Regions from separate parts of the Homo sapiens genome. Here region 1 is linked to region 2. Evidence: fine-mapped expression QTL. A gene starts in region 2. The other region holds a variant in brackets. All regions are shown on one strand. Distances are from middle to middle. Region 1 overlaps PLEKHH2 (pleckstrin homology, MyTH4 and FERM domain containing H2). Region 2 holds the start of PLEKHH2 (pleckstrin homology, MyTH4 and FERM domain containing H2).

Region 1 (9,467 bases), 71 kb after region 2:
TTGCTTTAAATACCCTGTTCAAACTCTCTCTTTTACCCTAGGAAAGCAGAATTTATGCTGTAGCCAAATCAGGTATTCGAATGTCTGAGGCCTTCAATATGGAGAGTGTTAATAAAAGTAAGTGCTTTTTCATGCTGCCACCTGGATGAACCTTGAGGACTTTGTGCTAAGGGATAGTATAATACAAATACATGGTACAGTCACAAAAAGACAAATACTGTATGATTCCACCTAAAGGAGGTGTTTAAAGGGTCAAATTCATAGGAATAGAAAGTAGAATGGCGGTTACCAGGGTCAGGGTGTGCGTGGAGAAGCGAATTTATTGTTTACTGGGTATAGCATTTCAGATTTGCAAAATGAAAAAGTTCTAGAGGTCTGTTTTACAACAGTGTGAATACACTTAACATTACTGAACTGTACAATTAAAAATGATTAAGATGGGCCGGGCACGGTGGCTCGCGCCTGTTATCCCAGCACTTTGGGAGGCTGAGGCAGACAGATCACGAAGTCAGGAGATCAAGACCATCCTGGCTAACACGTTGAAACCCCATCTCTACTAAAAATACAAAAAAAATTAGCCGGGCGTGGTGGCGGGCGCCCATAGCCCCAGCTACTCGGGAGGTTGAGGCAGGAGGATGGCGTGAACCGAGGAGGTGGAGCTTTCAGTGAGCTGAGATTGTGCCACTGCACTCCAGCCTGGGTGACAGAGCAAGATTCTGTCTTAAAAAAAAAAAAAAAAAAAAAAAAGATTAAGATGGTAAATTTTATGTTCTGTGTTTTTTCCCACAATAAAAAAAGTTTAGAAAAGTGATTTGCATTGCTATTTCATTCGCTAAGAACTTCCTAAATGTCTAAATTCATTGGAATAAAGAGTTGTGTAAACTTTCAAAAAATGATTTCTAGGGTTGCTGATTTGTATTTTAAAATTGAAATTCATCTTAGTGTGGGGACTCAAATACACTCAACTCTGATGTATATTTTTTTACCTGAGAGAGACTAAATCAGAGAAACTGTGGCATTTCAGCTGTTTAAAATGGTAAAAATATAGGCTTCTATGTCCTTTTTTCCCAGAATTTAAAACACATTTCCCCTTTCTTTATTTCTTCCAAAAAATTCTTATGGAAACAATGCATGCTCATTACAAAAAATAAAACCAAACAACAAGAACTGTCTGGAATAACAAGAAATTTTCCTGTGGTTCTTTCTACCACCTCCTCCCTATCCCACCACTAATTCATATGTTAGGGGTAACTATTGATATTCAGTTCCTGTTCAGCTATCTGCAGTTCTTTCCATTCAGGAAATTTTATCCTTTTTTTTTTTTTTTTTTTTTTGAGGCAGCGTCTTACTCTGTCACCCAGGTGGGAGTGGAGTGGTGTGATCATAGCTCACTACCGCCTTGAACTCCTGGGCTCAAGCGATCCTCCTGCCTCAGCCTCCTGATTAGTTAGGATGACAGGTGCATACCACCATGCCTTGATACTTTTTAAGATTTTTTGTGGAGATGGGGGTCTCACTGTGTTGCCCAGACTGGTCTCAAACTCCTGGCCTTAAGCAATCCTCCTGCCTCAGCTTCTCAAGGTGCTAGGATTACAGGTGTGAGCCACTACACTTAGCTAGGAAATTACATTCCAATATTTCAACATCAGATTTACCTGATAAAGGCTTAAGAACAGTGGTTTTGGTTTTGGTTTTTGTTTGAGAACAAGTCTTGCTCTGTCGCCCAGGCTGTAGTGCAGTGGCATGATCTCGGCTCACTGCAACCTCCCCTTCCCAGGTTCAAGCAATTCTTGTGCCTCAGCCTCCCAAGTAACTGAGATTACAGGTGTATGCCACCATGTTTGGTTTTAGTAGAGAAAGGGTTTTGCCATGTTGCCCAGGTTGGTCTCAAACTCCTGGGCTCAAGCGATCCACTGCCTCAGCCTCCCAAAGTCCTGGGATTACAGATGGGAACCACCATGCCCCACCAGAACAGTGGTTTTGATACCATGCTGGTAATAGGGTTATGAATAGTCAGAGAATATCTTCCTATGTACTGCTTACTGAATTGGTTGGTAAGCAGTTGCCTGTACTTAGTTCTGCCCAGCCTGAGCAAAGCATGCATGGAGATTTCAAGGAAATAAAAGCTATGGTTCTTGCTCTCAAAGAGCTTGCAGTCTAGTTGGGGAACTAGCACACATGAGGAAATAATGAACCATGTAAAAAAGTGTATAAATAAACCTGTAAATGCCATAATCTGTAAAGTAGACTATACAGTTAGTAATCATGTATTAATCGAATTGCTTTTTAAATGGAGATTATGCTCATTTGTATTCATAAGAAAAAGACCAATGTGCTAATTAGAAGTTTTTTAAAATGTTGTTTCCTGTTTTTCTGTTTCAGATTCTGCTGCAACCCTTTCCTATACTACATCAGGACTTTATACATCTCTGATATACAAGAACATGACCACCCCAGTGTATACAACTTTGAAGGGGGTAACTCATTATTGTTATTGTTAAAACATGTGCTTCTCTTCATGATGGATCAAGGAAATTGTTAATTCAAGCTCCAGATTCCATTCTTAACATTTTACACAGGCTCTCCCTTTATAGAAAGTTTTACAAGTTCACGTTAACATATCATAAAAAAGAAGGAATGGAAAGGTCTGCAGAAGACACTTATCAGAATGTTAGAGGTCTGAGTCAGTTTTTACTGTGTCCCATGTGATTCCCCCACCTCCCCATGGCCATGAATTGTTTAAAGGAGACATATTATTAATAATGTAATGAAAACTCCTAATTTAGGCAGATCTTTGTATCAGTGCCAGGGTACCCCTTCCTTGCTTGAAGTATTAATTAAAAGAAGGATTGCAGGTATTGACAACCTTATATTTTCAGGCATCTTTTATAATTGCTTATTAGAATTCAGGGTTTAACAACATGATTTTGATAACAGCAAAATACATTCCCAAATTCCTTTTAAAAATCATATGCTGGCTGGGCACGGTGGCTCACGCCTGTAATCCCAGCACTTTGGGAGGCCGAGGCGGGCGGATCACGAGGTCAGGAGTTCGAGACCAGCCTGGCCAACATGGCGAAACCCTGTCTCTACTAAAAATATAAAAATTAGCCGGGCGTGGTGGCAGGTGCCTGTAATCCCAGCTACTCAGGAGGCTGAGTCAGGAGAATCGCTTGAACCTGGGAGGCGGAGGTTGCAGTGAACCGAGATCATGTCATTGCACTCCAGCCTGGGTGACAAGAGCAAGACTCCACCTCAAAAAAAAAAAAAAAAAAAATTCTATGCTATGACTTCTTCCTGTAAAACTTTCTGTTATCTAAAAAGAGTGATAACCTTAGGGATGGATACAGGGAGGTTGCTCTGCTTTTCTTTAGGAGGCGACCCTAATAACTAGCAGCCTTTTCTTGGATGAGTGGTAACATTAGGGATGGATACAGGGAGGTTGTTCCACTTTTCTTTAGAAGGCGACCCAAATAAGTAGCAGCCCTTTCCTGGATGACTCATCTGGGTCAGAGGAAGAAGACAGCTCCAGATCCAGCTCCCGGACGTCAGAGTCAGACTCACGCAGTAGGAGTGGGCCAGGCAGCCCCAGAGCCATGAAACGAGGTGAGGGAAAATCGCAGGCATATGAGGCAACTCCAGATCATTCTGAATATTAATTGGGAATTTTATCTCCATTACAGGATTATTTTTTAAATCCAAGAACTTGCTTCAGACCCTAGTGAAAAGAACTTTAGCCTATGACTGATATGTTTATATTCCTAATTCTCTTCTTAATTCTCTGTGATTTCAGACAAATTATATAGTTTTTTTTTTTCAGCTTTTTATTGTCTGTGAGAGGGAGATCACTTTATTGTTGGAATGAAGTGAGATAATTGGCCAAAATGAGGTTTCTTTCTTGGCATTTGTGAAATAGACTTATTTCAGCTAAAGTTGTTACACTGCTAACTGGCAGAAAATATACCTTAAAATTTGTCAATTAATCTGATGTTAAAGTGGAGAACAACATTTACTTGGAATATGTCTATGATTTTTAGTGGATTTTGAAGACATTCTGTGTGTAGGTAGTGGTTACAGAGAGATCTAATTCCACCAAATGACATCTGTATGTTATAAAAAGCCCTTAATGCAGCATGGTGTGTCTGTTGGCTTTCAAACTGTGTTCCATGGAACCTCTGGATACTTCCAATCCCCTCGGCTTCAACTGGAGCTGCTCAGCCTTCCTTGGTTTCATATTTTGAGCTTCCACTGGTCTTCTTGCTCTCAACTTGCCCCGCTACAGCCAGAATCAGGTTATGACACACTTTTGCTGGAAACACTGCAGTGGCTCCTCACAACGGCTATAAGGTGTTCCAGGATTCGGTCACGTACTTGACCTCATCTCCTTTCTTCTCTGTACTCAGCTCCAGTCTCACTGGCCCTCTTGCTGTTCTGAGACATGCCAGGCATGCTTGCATTTCAGGACCTTGGCACTGCTGTTTCCTCCAGCTGGTATTCTTCCCCTAGATGTCCGTATAGCTGACTCCCTCACCTCCATCAGCAAACGCTGCTTTCTCAATGAGGTCCACCCTGACCACACCACTCAAATTGCAGCCCTTTGTCTTTCTTCTGTTGCCAGCTCTTTTTATTCCCTTTAGTCTGCTCTA[T/C]GTTTTATTGTTCCATACCACCTACTGCCTGTTTGTCAGTGGTCTCCTTCCGCTAGAATTTGTTCCACGAGAGCCAATATTTTTGTTGTTTGCTCTATCCCTAGCATCTAGGACAGTGCCTGGCACACTGGCCCTGGTCCTGGGAGCCTGAGACTTGTGTTCCAACATTGCCCCTGCCTAACTCTTTGACTTTGGACAAATCCTTTAATCTCTGGGCCTTAGTCTCCTTGGGCCTTAGCCATGACAATCACTGAGGTCCCTATAGGTCTACATTTTTGTTTATTCTATGAAAAATGAAGATATTATAGCAACTGTTACTTGTCTGAGTCAAATAAAAAGCAGTGTCACAAGAGTGGCATTGTTCTAATATGTCCCTTAAATGTTAATACATATTTTTAAAAATTGCTGGATACTTTTATAAATAATTACCTAAGTCCTTGATTTTATTTAATATATTCTAAATCTCCAATTGTAGTGACTCATGAAATGTGGCTTGCAACTCCCAGGTAGTTTTCTGTAAAGGCAAATGAATCATTGTATAAATGTTCCATTGAATTTTATGTTATAGCTGCTGGCAAGTGAAAGAAATAGTTTGTTTATATCTTTCAATCTTATTGTTTCTCTTTTATGAAATATTTTTAAAATCTGTAAACTGCTTAGTAGCTTATGGAACTTGAATGAAAAAATACTACTGAATTGTGTTTTTTTAAAATGTGAGGTTACTTTAAAAGTGATTACAGAAGTTAAGAAATTTAAAATGTGATTGTGAAAATCTTGATAAATTAAGGTTCAACATTTGTTTGCCTATATGTCAATGTGTAAATACACATATTTTTAATTCTTAATAAAATATACATGAGTAGACTCTTGCATATATTTTATATATGTAAAATAGCTGTGTGATTGTAATCATACCAAAATATTATTCCTGTTCCTTTCACTTCCTTAGAGATTTACATGACAGTCCCTACCTCTTAGTTCTGTTTTCTGCTTTAAAAGTTCTTCATGTTGGGAGGCCAAGGCAGGCGGATCACGAGGTCAAGAGATCGAGACCATCCTGGCCAACATGATGAAACCCCATCTCTACTAAAGATACAAAAATTAGCTGGGCGTGGTGGCGCACACCTGTAGCCCCAGCTACTCGGGAGGCTGAGGCGGGAGAATCGCTTGAACCCAGGAGGCAGAGGTTGCAGTGAGCCGAGATTGTGCCAGTGCACTCCAGCCTGGTGACAGAGCGAGACTCTGTCTCAAAAAAAGTTATTTATGGCCAAAGGAATGAGAATAAATCTAGTCTAGGGAGGCTTATGATTTAGGAATAATTGCATTCTGTAGGAGCACTCAGAGCTGGTGTTTGGCCCTCCCCAGTATTAAATACTGACTTGATTTCTTTCTTTGTTCTCTTAGGTGTGTCTCTCTCCTCTGTGGCTTCTGAAAGTGATTATGCTATTCCTCCTGATGCTTACTCCACAGACACGGAGTACTCACAGCCAGAGCAGAAGCTCCCAAAAACTTGCTCATCTTCCAGTGATAATGGGAAAAATGTAAATATTGAATATGATTTTTAAAAAGCAGTCAGTCAGATTGAGCCTCCAAAAGGAAACTGAAAATGCTTTTGTCTATCTTTTAAAAATTAGGAACCACTGGAAAAATCTGGTTATTTATTAAAAATGAGTGGTAAAGTCAAGTCTTGGAAGCGGCGGTGGTTTGTTCTTAAAGGTGGTGAATTACTTTACTACAAATCTCCGGTGAGTGGAAAGTGTTTTCTGTTTAGAACGTAATTCCTCAAACTATAAATCAGACGCCTGATTGATTTCCTTCCCATAATGCAAGTAATGATACAAAGCATTCCTTATTATTACTGTTAAAGTTAATCACTTTCCATTTGTTTTTCTGTTTCATACAGAGTGATGTAATTAGAAAACCCCAGGGCCATATTGAACTTAGTGCATCCTGTAGTATTTTAAGAGGAGATAACAAACAAACAGTTCAGGTACTTAACTTTTTTTTTTTTTTTTTTTTTTTTGTATCATGCCAGACTCAATTCTCAATTATCCAACCTAATGGAAAGGAGATAGGATAATTCAGTGTTTCTTTATTCACTTTGGGGGGTTAGTTTGATGCCTTGGAAGTATGTGAAACTCCACGAATTTTTGGTTAAAACTATAATGTAAGTTAGGTGTGTGTTGAGTAACTCCCACCACACTTTACCTTTCTTCCTTTATACTCTTCTTTCCTCATATTTAATCTCCTAGGTATTTTCAGCTGTCCAACTGTGAAGCTATTTTAAGGAAGGGTTATCTGGTAAATGAATTCTCAATAAGATGTTAGTTATATAATGTACTGTGAAATTCAGGAATGTTTGTATTTTAATATAGAATCTGAAAATGACAGTTCTTATATGAACTTCAGATGCCATAACACCAAAGTGGGAAATATATTGGTGAGCAGAGGGAGTGTGCTGCCAAGCAAGTCACACTGTAGGGGCAGCTGCTGCCCATTTTACTCACACATAAGGCCAGTCTTGCCAGAAATCTGTTAAATTTAAAACACAGGCTGTTGAGATATTCTAGTATATGTAATTTAAAGTCAGACACTTTATTTCTGAAATGTCTTCAATAACCATTATTTTCTTATATTGCTCCTTTGGAGGGTGGAGGACAACTTTGCCAGAAAGGTACATTATCAATGTTTCCAGTGATTTGTACCTGAAAACCTCTCAAAAATTTAGAAAGGAGAATCAAGGAAAGCTTTGTCTTTGGGCATGGCAGTTAAGAATCATTTGTAAGTTTCTGAAATTTGGAAAATTTGCAGTGTGGCTAATTTGAGACTGGAACATTCTGAGTTCATAATATCTAATCACATGTTCGTTCCAATAATTTATCTTCTTATATGCAAGATCTTCTTATTTTATTTATAGTTGATTTTGTCATTTGTATTAAGAAACCTCTTCTTTAGTTGCTAAAACTATGCTATTTTATTATAGTCTTTAATCATTCTGCTCCTCATTTCAATAAGTAGGAACCTGGCCGGGCGCGGTGGCTCACGCCTGTAATCTCAGCACTTCAGGAGGCTGAGGCAGGCGGATCATGAGGTCAGGAGATCGAGACCATCCTGGCTAACACGGTGAAACCCCGTCTCTACTAAAAATTCAAAAAAAATTATCCGGGCATGGTGGCAGGTGCCTGTAAGTCCCAGCTGCTCGGGAGGCCGAGGCAGGAGAATGGTGTGAACCCAGGAGGCGGAGCTTGCAGTGAGCCAAGATGGCGCCACTGCACTCCAGCCTGGGCGACAGAAAGAGACTCTGTCTCAAAAAAAAAAAAAAAAGAAAAGTAGGAACCTGTAACACATTTAAGCAAGAAAGGGAAAATGTGACAAATAAACAAGATATAAAATCATAACCCCAAAATTAGGTAAACTGGAGTAACAAAGTTATTTCCACAAAAATTTAATTGCTGTAATTCTCACAAAGTGGTTAAAATATTCTAACTGATATGGAGTCATTTATTTAGAAACTGGGACTTGAGATTTAGCATGTTTGCTTCTGTGTTAAGTAATGACGTTTGAATAATGAACAAGGAAATGCTAACAATCCTAAATCTTCACAGTTTTCTTTCCTATACCTTTCTCGTTGCATTCTAGTTGACCACTGAAAAACACACATACTATCTGACTGCAGATTCTCCCAATATATTGGAAGAGTGGATTAAAGTGTTACAGAATGTTCTTCGAGTACAAGCTGCCAACCCACTTTCCCTGCAGCCTGAGGGCAAACCCACCATGAAGGGATTGCTCACTAAGGTAGGAACCTCCTGTGCATAGCAATGTCCCAGGCAGCTATGGGCATGAGCCCATGATCGCTGAAAATGGGATGTCAGAGCATATACATATATTGAATATTGATATGATCTTGGGGATAGGAAAGGGTGTTTTTAAGTATGATGCCCAAGGCAAAAACTATAAAGATGAAAAGAAGACAAATTTGACTATAATATGTAAAAATGTAAAGGCTCTATTAAAAATTCTACGAGCAGAATTTTTAAAAGAAGGATTGAAAAACTTTGAAGAGGTATTTGAAACATGTGAAAACTGGTTAATATCATTAATATTTAACACGTTTTTTTCTAATCAGTAAGCAAACAATGAACACCAATTGGGGGAAAAGGAACAAAAGACTCAATGGGCAGGAAAGAGAGATCATCGAGGTTAGAAGGAATACAAATGATCAATAAGCATATGGAAAAACATTTTACTGTCACTCAATTTTTTTAAAAGCACAGATTGAAATAAGAGGTGGCACTTTTTAAAATCTGGTGAAAAGTAAGACGTTTTTACAAATTTTGAAACCTAGTATTGACACAGATTAAAAAATCTGCTAGTTTCTGCAATTACATAGGCAGTAGAAAAAAAAAGAAATCTGCTAGTGAGAGCATTACTCTAAAAGGCAGTTTGGCAATATCTTGGCTGAAGTGTTAACTTAGCCAATAATTTTGAGTGAACAAATCAATATCAAATCAACACACACACACACACACGCATATATATCTCCTTTGATCCAGCAATCTCAGTTTTAAAAATTTATCCTTAGGAAGTGGTCTTAATTTGCAAAAGATTTAATTATGAGATGTTCCTCACAGCATGTTTTTTTTCCTATTTTAAAAAATGAGGTATGATTAATATATCTGAAATGCACAGATCTTAAGTGTAGAGTTTGACTAGTTTTGAAAGCTATTTACTTTTGACTCTATCAAGATGCAGAACATTTCCATTACCCCAGAAAGATTCCTTGCACAGCATGGTTCATAATAAAGAAAAATTGGGATC
Region 2 (9,467 bases):
AGTGTCTTTTTTTCTTTTTTTTAACTTCATGGGTCCTGAACAAACTATTACTGGCTCTCCCTCAGTCTGGTTCAACAATTCTTTTCCTCTTTTCAGTTGCCTTAAAATAAGTGGTGCTCAAAGTACCCACCTCTGTGCTTTTGTTATGCTTCTGTACACACTTGTTTTCTTTTCATGACCTTAGCAATGCCCATTAGTCTCTCACCTTCACCAGTTCTGGCACCACCTATGCTACCCCCAACCAATCTGTGATAGTGGGGGCCCAGCTCACCTGGGGAGGTGAGATTGAAGCAAATCCTGCCTTCGTTGCAGACCCAAAGGACTGAGCAAGCCAGTATGCTCTGGACACTGGGGACACATCAAAGAAACTGTTTTCCTGGTCCACCCCCACTGGGAGGGCCAGGATGCTTGTCTGTCTCCTTGTTTGTAGGGCCTCCTTCATGCCAAGGCTTTTCTGGTCTCCTAGGTTGCAGGTAAACAGCCTGGAGTGCCCAGACCTGTACCCTCCTCAGCTAGAGAGAGCTGTTCCTGCTAGCTCTATTCATTTTTCCAAATCTTCCCCTTGTCTTTGATATCTTTTCCCAGGTGCTGGGGTTTATACTTTCTCCGTGCCAGAAGCCACAAGCTTATTCTAGTGGAGATAGTGTCTCCGCCCTCCTTCTTTCTTTTTGGATTTTATGTGTGGTGGATTAAAGGATCAGATACTTATTCCCTGATATTTACCCAGCTCCGTACCTCTTTTCCCTTCAACCCCTCTGTCCTTGCTCCCAATGTGCCAAATGGCCACATGGCCAGCAATCATTCTACAATTTACAGTAATCTCCCCCTATGCAGAAGTATACGTTGAAATGTACACCCAAATTCAAACCTTCTCCCCAGCTCAGCCTGACTGATTTTCTCTTGGCTCTCTCCTGGATATTTCACTCGCACCTCAAGTTGTGCTCAGTACCTCCAAGCCAGATCTCATTCTTCTTGTTCCCTCTCCTTGCTTCCTTACTTTTGTAAATGGCACCATCATTTCCTGATAATGCAGACACAAAGCCTCCCTTCTAATCCGCCTTCTAATCAGCTGTTAGACCTTGTAGGTTCAATTTCTTGAAAGAAGTTGAGATGTATAAACAGTTCCTGATTTACGGTGGTTTGACTTATGATTTTTGCTAGATACTGGATATACATTAAAGAGCAAAAACAGTTGTTCTACTTTTCTGGCACTTACAGTCTTGTGGGGGGGAAAACAGACAAAATAATCACAAATAAACATAATATCACAATTTAGATTAATGCTTATAAAACAAAGGTGCCTATTGCTACTAACATTTTCTATCCCTGCTACCTAACGTAAAAACACAAAATTCAACATGTTTTTCTTTTTTAAAACATCTTTATTGAGATATAATTCAATAACATCCAGTTTATCCATTTAAATTGCGTATGTCCATGGCTTTTTGTATGTTCAAAGTTGTGTAATCATCACCATAAATGTTTTTATTATCGCAAAAATAAACCTCACTTGTCTTAGCCATCACCCCGATCCTTCCCAGCCCTAAGCAACCACCAATCCACTTATGTCTCTATGGATTTGCCTGTTCTGAACATTTCATGTAAATGGGATCCTACAGTATGTGCCTTTTAAATGACTGGCTTCTTTCATTAAGTATAATGTTTTCAAGGTTTATCAATGTTGTAGCATGTATCAGTACTTTATTTCTTTTTACCACTGAATAATATTCCATTGTACCATGTGTTTTTCTCAGCATAGACAAAGATAGGATGCTGTTCCGCTGTATTCTCCATACCCAGACAAATTCAGTTTGTCATGTTTCTAGAAAAAGGTGACAGTAAGTAAATATTGGCTAAGCCTTACAAGGGTGGCAGCCGTGTTTACAAAGCGGCTTTTCATGAGTGACTTTATTCACTCAGTTCTTTTAGTCTAATTAGTATTTCTGACTCACAAACGGAAGTGATTCTATTTTGGCATTCTTTCTCTCTTTCTCCTGCTTGGTCTCTACTGACTTGCTGTGTTAAATTATGCAAGTTACTGAAACTCTGTTTGTTTAACTCCTGCGTGCTCTATAAAATAAGCCCAGTCCAGTCTGCTTGTTTGCCAAAGCTGTTTGAAGACAATTTTTCATATGATATGCATCATCAGCTCCCACAGAAGGCAAAAGGAATTTGATGTGTGGGGGTAGTCTGGGATCCTGTTCAAAATTAATGCTCATCTGGAAGAAATATGAAAGCCTGATACTTGCTTACTGGACTTTTAGTTGTATTCACTTATTGCTTTTCCTCTGAGAAACTTTGAAAATCTTTATCTCTTTTGTGGTTTTTTCTTTCCTTTTTTTTGAGACAGAGTCTTGCTCTGTCACCCAATCTGGAGTGCAGTGGTGCGATCTCAGCTCACTGCAACTGCTGCCTTCCTGGCTCAAGCGATTCTCCTGTCTCAGCCTCCTGAATAGCTGGGATTACAGGCGTATGCCACCATGTTCAGCTAATTTTTGTATTTTTAGTAGAGATGGGGTTTCGATATGTTGGCCAGGATGGTCTCAAACTCCTGACCTCAAGTCATCTGCCCGCCTTGGTCTCCCAAAATGCTGGGATTACAGGCATGAGCCACTGTGCCCATCCTCTGTGTGTGTGTGTGTGTGTGTGTGTGTGTGTGTGTGTGTGTGTGTGTGTTTTATATAAGATGAGATAAAGTTAAAAAAAAAAAGATTGTAGTAGAAAAAGTTTTTCTGATACTCTCTATTGGCCAACTGTGAACCAAAGAGAATAATCTGTCTGACCTAGCTTTGTGACCTGGGGAACGATTATCCATAACATTCAGAATTCTCTTTATTTTACCCTGAGATTGACCTCTCCAGACCCTAAGTTGGGATGTAAAATTCACCTGGATTTAAATTATCACTAATTTACTTATGCAATATGCTCTGTGCTGAGGAGAATGCAAAAAAAAAAAAAAAACCACAAATCCTTGTTTTCAAAGTGCTCACAGTCTAAAAGAGATGTGAGGAGCTGTGCATAAGGCAGAGGGAGCTAAGCCCCAAGAGAGGCAAAAATCTAGATGTTCAGGGAGCAGAAACCAGAGAAGACCTTTTTTTTTTTTTTTGTCTCAGATGGAGTCTTGCTCTGTAGGCAGGCTAGAGTGCAGTGGTGCTATCTTGGCTCACTGCAACCTCCGCTTCCCAGGTTCAAGCGATTCTCCTGCCTCAGCCTCCCGAGTAGCTGGGACTACAGTCGTGCACCACCACGCCCAGCTAATTTTTGTATTTTTAGTACAGACCAGGTTTCACCATGTTGGCCAGGATGGTCTCGATCTCTTGACCTCGTGATCTGCCCTCCTCGGCCTCCCAAAGTGCTGGAATTACAGGCATGAGCCACTGCGCCCGGCCCAGAGACGACATTTCTGCCAGGTGGAGCGACAGACATAGTTACATGGAGAAGATGATGATGATGATGATGATGATAATGATGATGATTTGAGACAGGATCTCGCCCAGTCGCCCAGGATCCAGTGCAGTGGCATGATCGCGGCTCACTGCAGCCTCCATCTCCTGTGTTTAAGCAATCCTCCAGCCTTAGCCTCCTGAGTAGCTGGGACTACAAGTGAGCGCCACCAAGCCCAGCTAATTTTTTTTTTTTGTGTGTATATATATATATATATATATATATTTTTTTTTTTTTTTTGGTAGAGACAGGGTTTCACCATGTTGCCCAGGCTCGTCTCGAACTCCTGGCCTCAAGTGATCCACCTGCCTCGGTCCCCCAAAGTACTGGGATTACAGGCGTGAGCCACTGCGCCCGGTGAGAAGATTATTCTGAGCTTTTTGAAGTGGAGACAGGAAATAGCATGTAAACGCTCCTAGTGCCACTTCCTTCGGGTGGCGAGGTGCACAGCAGTAGTCTCAGGTGTGTGAAGGGCAGCTGTGAGAAATAAACCTGAAAAGACGGGATGGAGACCTTGAACACTAGACTAGGGAATCTGTTCTTGATAATTTAAGCAAACGGAAGCCAATGAAAGTCTTTGGCACACTGTTCATCAAAACTGCTCTTAAGGAAATTAACCTGGCAGGAAGATGAAGGGTGGATTGGCAAGAGGAGAGACTTCAGACTGGGAGACCAAGGGAGGGTGCTGCAACAGTCCAGGCAGACGGAGTGGAATGAAGGTGACCGGCCGCTGCAGCAAGCTCTGGAGTCTCGCAGTTGGGACGTTAGGGGTACCACTCCAGGACAGAGCTCCCTCCTGGGGCAGGGACTGGGAGGAGCCAAAGTTATAGCCACACCCCCGGTGACGCCCGGTGGTCGGCTGTGGTCTCCCATTGGCTACACCGGCTGCCAGTCCCTGGAGGAGGCGGTGCCCTTCCCCGCCCTCTCCGAGCTCGGCTTGAGGCGGGCGCGGGCTGAGAGTCCGGGGATCCCGGGGGCCAGTCGCGGCCGGGACATCGGGCGCTGCGGCCGGGGACCCGCTGCTGAGATAGACAGGTGAGAAAGCCCGGGGACGAGGGGCCACTCCAGAGTTCCTGCCACCCTGGGATCCCCGCCCCCTTGAGGGCGCCCCGTCCAGGGGGGCTCGCGGGGCCGAGGTTTGGGGCGCCGGGAGGAGCGGGAAGGCGGGGACGAGAGGGACGGAGCGGGCTGACTCGGGATCCGCCGCTGCACCTCCCGCCACAGCCCAGAGTCGGCCCCCAAGTCTGGATGTCGCCGGGAGAGGTGGGCAGGGGGCGGTGGCCGGCGGTCCCTCGCGCCCGTGGGCTCCCGTGACGTTCTGTTTGGAAACACTGGGCCCGGGCTTCTGGCGCGGCGCGAGCGGTCCCGGGGGCGCAGCGGGGCAGCCCAGGGTCCCCGAGCCGAGGGACCCGCGCGGTCAGGGATGCCGCGCTCGCCTTAGGCTTCGGGAGATCCACCAGGATCTCCGGGGCGAAACTTTAAACTCAAAACTTTAAAGAAGCATTTTGTACACCTCGAGTTGCTGGCACGTCAAAGCACCCTAAGGTGACCTACCCGGAAACCACTGTCCCCGAAGTTAGTGGGGCACTTTTTAAAGGACAACACTTTTTACCCGTCGATATTGTTGTGCGTAACGCTGTGGAAATAGAAGTCGAACCACTTACATTGGAAAAGCTCTGGTGGTGGGCTACCTGAGGGTCACTGCTTTCTTTGTGAAAATGCCAGTCTTGGAAGCCTGGCCCGCACAGCGGTGTGTCCCAGAGGAGTATGTAGTGAGGAGCTCGGCTGTTCTGGGCAGGGTCACCGAAGGGCAGGCGTTGCCCAAGTGGGGCTAGGTGGCTAGGTGGTGGTCAGAAGGTTCCTTAAACAAGGCATGCCTCAGTCTCGTCGAGAAAGATCTTTTAACACACACACACACACACACACACACACACACACACACACTCACACACACGATTACCCAGCCCAGTTAAGCTGTCCCTTAAGAGGCAAAAACTAAAGAATATCATAGAGACTAACGCTGCGCTTCATCAGGGTAAGCCTAAGTAGAATAATTCTTTCATTTCTTTTTCTTTCCTTTTTGGGATTTGGAAGAGAAACAGGAAGTCAGAGATTCAGAGAAAAGAGCATTCACTCCACAATTGTAAACAGTTTATCTTATGTCAGTAAATACTTCCAAAAATCACTGGGGGTATTTGGAACTCCAAGACTTTTTCCTGTCCCCTGAAGTGAAGATAGATTATTTTCAAATGCAGAATCTAGACATGATAGATTCCTTTCAAATTCAGAATCTATATGTGGTATTTTCTTTATTTAGCAGTCGGCTATGTTATATAGTTATATATATATTCCCAATGTTATATAGTTCTATAACATTAGTGGTAATGAAAAGGATGGCGGATATTGTTTAAAATTAGAATTTTTAACTACCCAAGATGGTGCACTAATACAACAGTTGCTTTGTACTTGTTAACTAACTGAAATTACAGAATGAAATGAGGGAATCAGGTGTCTGGATCTCAGTGCAGACCATTATCCAACCAATTTGCAGTTCTGATTTATTATGACCCATTAATAGGGAATGTAGATGTTAAATGCCAATTTAATAATATTCTTAAGGCTTTGCTACTTCACTATAAAATATATAATTAGCATAACTAAAGAAATAGGTATGTTTGACTTTGAATTAATTTATTATGTCATCATAGCAAAGTGCGCTAGGTAAGATATATGTATGATACTTTTCATATTTGGGGTTAACAGTTACCTCTCAATTTTTTGAGCTAATTGTGAAATTCTTGGCAGGGATAACCACAAATAATGGTTGATTAAATTTGTAAATGCAGTCCTAGTATACATCCATTTAAACTGCGACTTTTTCTTTAGTCATTTGTAAATATGTGATCTTTTTTATTGAGATCTTAATATAAGTCACAAACTATAAGATTTTTCCTTTTAAAGTATACAGTTCACTGGGTTTTGGTATATTCACAAGGTTGTATAGCCATCACCAATATCTAATTCTAGAATATTTTCATCACCCCAAAAAGAAACCCCCTATCCATTGTAGTCAGTATCTGCTACCTTCTCCTCACAGCCCTTGGCAACCACTAACCTACTTTCTGTCCTTTGGATTTGCCTCTTATGGACATTTCATGTAAATGGACTCATACAATATGTGGCCTTTTGTGTCTGGCATCTTTCACTTAGCATAATGTTTTCAAGGCTCTTCCATGACTATAGCGTGTATTAGTACTGTATTCCTTTTTTATGGCCGAATAATATTCCATTGTATGGATGTACCACTTTTTTTTTTTTTTTTTTTTTTTTGAGACAGAGTCTCACTCTGTCACCCAGGCTGGAGTGCAATGGCAGGATCTCAGCTCACTGCAACTTCTGCCTCCTGGGTTAAAGCAATTCTCCTGTCTCAGCCTCCCTAGTAGCTGGAATTATAGGCCTGCACCACCATGCCTGGCTAATTTTTGTATTTTTAGTAGAGACGGGGTTTTGCCATGTTGGCCAGGCTTGTCTTGAACTCCTGACCTCAGATGATCCACCTGCTTTTGCCCTACAAAGTGCTGGGATTACAGGAGTGAGCCACTGCACCCAGCCAGATCTACTACATTTTATTCATTCATCTGATGGTGGACACAGGCTGTTTCTACTCTTTGGCTATCATGAATAATGTTGCTCTGAACATTTATTTACAAGTTTTGGTGTGGATGTGTATTTCATCCCTTGGCATATGACCCCATCCCTTGGCATATGACCCAGCAACTCCAATGCCAAGTATAAAGTTACCAATACTTTATATTGATATACCAAATATAAAGTTACTCCAATAACTTGGTAACTTTATATTTAAACTTTTTTTTTTTTTTGAGACGGTGTCTCACTCTTGTCACCCAGGCTGGAGTGCAGTGTATGATCATAGCTCACTGCTCAAGTGATCCTCCCACACAGGGCTCCCGAGTAGCTGGGACCACAGGTAAGCTCCCCGACGCTTAGCTGATTTTTAAATTTTTTGATAGAGATGAGGTCTTGCTATGTTGCACAGTCTGGTCTTGAACTCCTGACCTCAGAGATGAATTCTCCAACCTCAGCCTCTCAAACTGTTGGGATTACAGGCGTGAGCCACCATGCTGGCCTGTTTAAACTTTTCAGGAACTGTAAAACTGTTTACAAAGCAGCTGTACCATTTTTACATTCCCACCAACAATGTATGAGGGTTCCCATTTCTCTACATCCTCACCAACACTTGTTGTTAGATGTCTTTTTCATTAGAACATCCTATTTGATGTGAAGTGGAATGTTGTTGTGACTTTGATTTGCATTTTCTCTCATAGCAAATAATGTGCTTATTGGCCATTTGTATATCTTCTTTGGATAAATCTCTATTCAGATACTTTGCCCATTTTTATTTATTTATTTTTAATTTATTATTATTATTGTTTTTAAAGATCGGGGTCTCCCTCTGTCGCCCAGGCTGGAGTGCAGTGGTGTGAACATGGTTCACTGCAGCTTCGACCTCCTGGGCTCAAGTGATCTTCCTGCCTCAACCCCCAAGTAGCTGGGACTACAGGCCTGCACCACCATGCCTGGCTAATTTTTTTTTTTTTTTTTTTTTTAATAAAGACAGGGTTTTGCCACCTTGCCCAGGCTGGTCTCAAACTCATGAGCTCAGGCAGTCTAACCGCCTCGGCCTCCCAGAGTGCTGGGATTATAAGCATGAGCCACCACGTCCAGGCCTTTGCCCATTGTTTAATTGGGTTATCTTTTTTTATCGTTGAGTCCTAAGAGTCCTTTATATATTCTAGACACAAATCCCTGAGATACATGATTTGCAACTATTTTTCCCATTCTGTGGGTTATCTTTGCACTTTCTTGATAGTGTCCTTTGAAGGACAAAAATTTAAAAATTTTTATGAAGTCCAATTTATCTATTTTTTCTTCGATTCCTTGTGCTTTAGGTGTCATATCTAAGAATCTGTTGCCTAATCCAAGGTCATGAAGATTTATACCTCTTTTCTTCTAAGAGTTTAGAGCAAGCGTGTCCAACCTGTGGCCTGCAGGCCACAGGCAGCCCAGGATGGCTTTGAATGTGGCCCAAAACAAATTTGTAAACTTTCTTAAAGCATTATGAGATTTGTTTTGCAATTTTTTTTTTTAGCTCATCAGCTACCTTTAGTGTTAGTGTATTTTATGTGTGGCTCAAGACAATTCTTCTTCTAACGTGGCCCAAGGAAGTCAAAAGATTGGACACCCCTGGTTTAGAGCTTTGGCTGGTACCTGTAAGTTTGTGATCCATTTTGTGTTACTGTGTATATATGGTATGAGGTATGGGTCCACATTCATTCTTTTACATATGGATATCCAGTTGTCCCAGCATCATCTGTTGAAAAGACTATTCTTTCCCCCATTGGATGATCTTATCACTCTTGCCAAAAATCAATGTGAGGCTTTAATTCTGGACTTAACTTTATTCTGTTTATCTATATATCTATCTTTATGCAAGTACCACACTGTGTAATCAAGCTACTGTATAGCTTTGTAGTAAGTTTAGAAATAGTAACATGTGAGTCCTCCAACTTTTCAATTTTATTTTGTCTATTCTTCAGCCCTTGAATTTCCAGGCAAAGTTTGATCAGCTTGTCAATTTCTGCAAAAAATGCAGTTGCAACTTTGATAGAGATTGCATTGTGTGTATATAGCCATTTGCAAGTATTGCCATCTTCACAATATTAAGTCTTCTAATCCATGAATATACAATTTCTTCCATTTATTTAGGTATTTTTAAATTTCTTTCAGTGATGTTTTGTAGTTTTCAGTGCACACATTTTGCACTTCTTTTGTTAAATTCATTCCTAAATATTTTATTAGTTTTGATGCTATTGTAAATGGAATATTTTCTTATTTTCATTTTTGGATTTTTCCTTGCTAGTGTATAGAAAAACAACTGACTTTTGTATGTTGATCTGATTTCCTGAAACCTTGCTAAACTCTATAGTTTAGTATTTTTTTGT

What was found. PIP is the estimated chance that this variant, and not a neighbour inherited with it, causes the effect.
Region 1: its variant is fine-mapped to the expression of PLEKHH2 in pancreas (GTEx, PIP above 0.99).

The regions. Positions count from the first base shown.
Region 1 is chr2:43,703,940-43,713,406 of GRCh38, forward strand. PLEKHH2 (pleckstrin homology, MyTH4 and FERM domain containing H2) reads left to right here. Exons shown (of 30, transcript NM_172069.4): 9 at 42-117; 10 at 2,383-2,477; 11 at 3,462-3,606; 12 at 6,051-6,187; 13 at 6,281-6,391; 14 at 6,550-6,636; 15 at 8,286-8,444. Among named protein-coding and RNA genes, the nearest start is that of C1GALT1C1L, 32 kb to the left of the region's middle. The variant T/C (reference allele first, on the strand shown) is at 4,647.
Region 2 is chr2:43,632,901-43,642,367 of GRCh38, forward strand. It overlaps PLEKHH2 (pleckstrin homology, MyTH4 and FERM domain containing H2), which reads left to right and starts at 4,360. Exons shown (of 30, transcript NM_172069.4): 1 at 4,360-4,479. RefSeq lists a silencer at 4,264-4,593.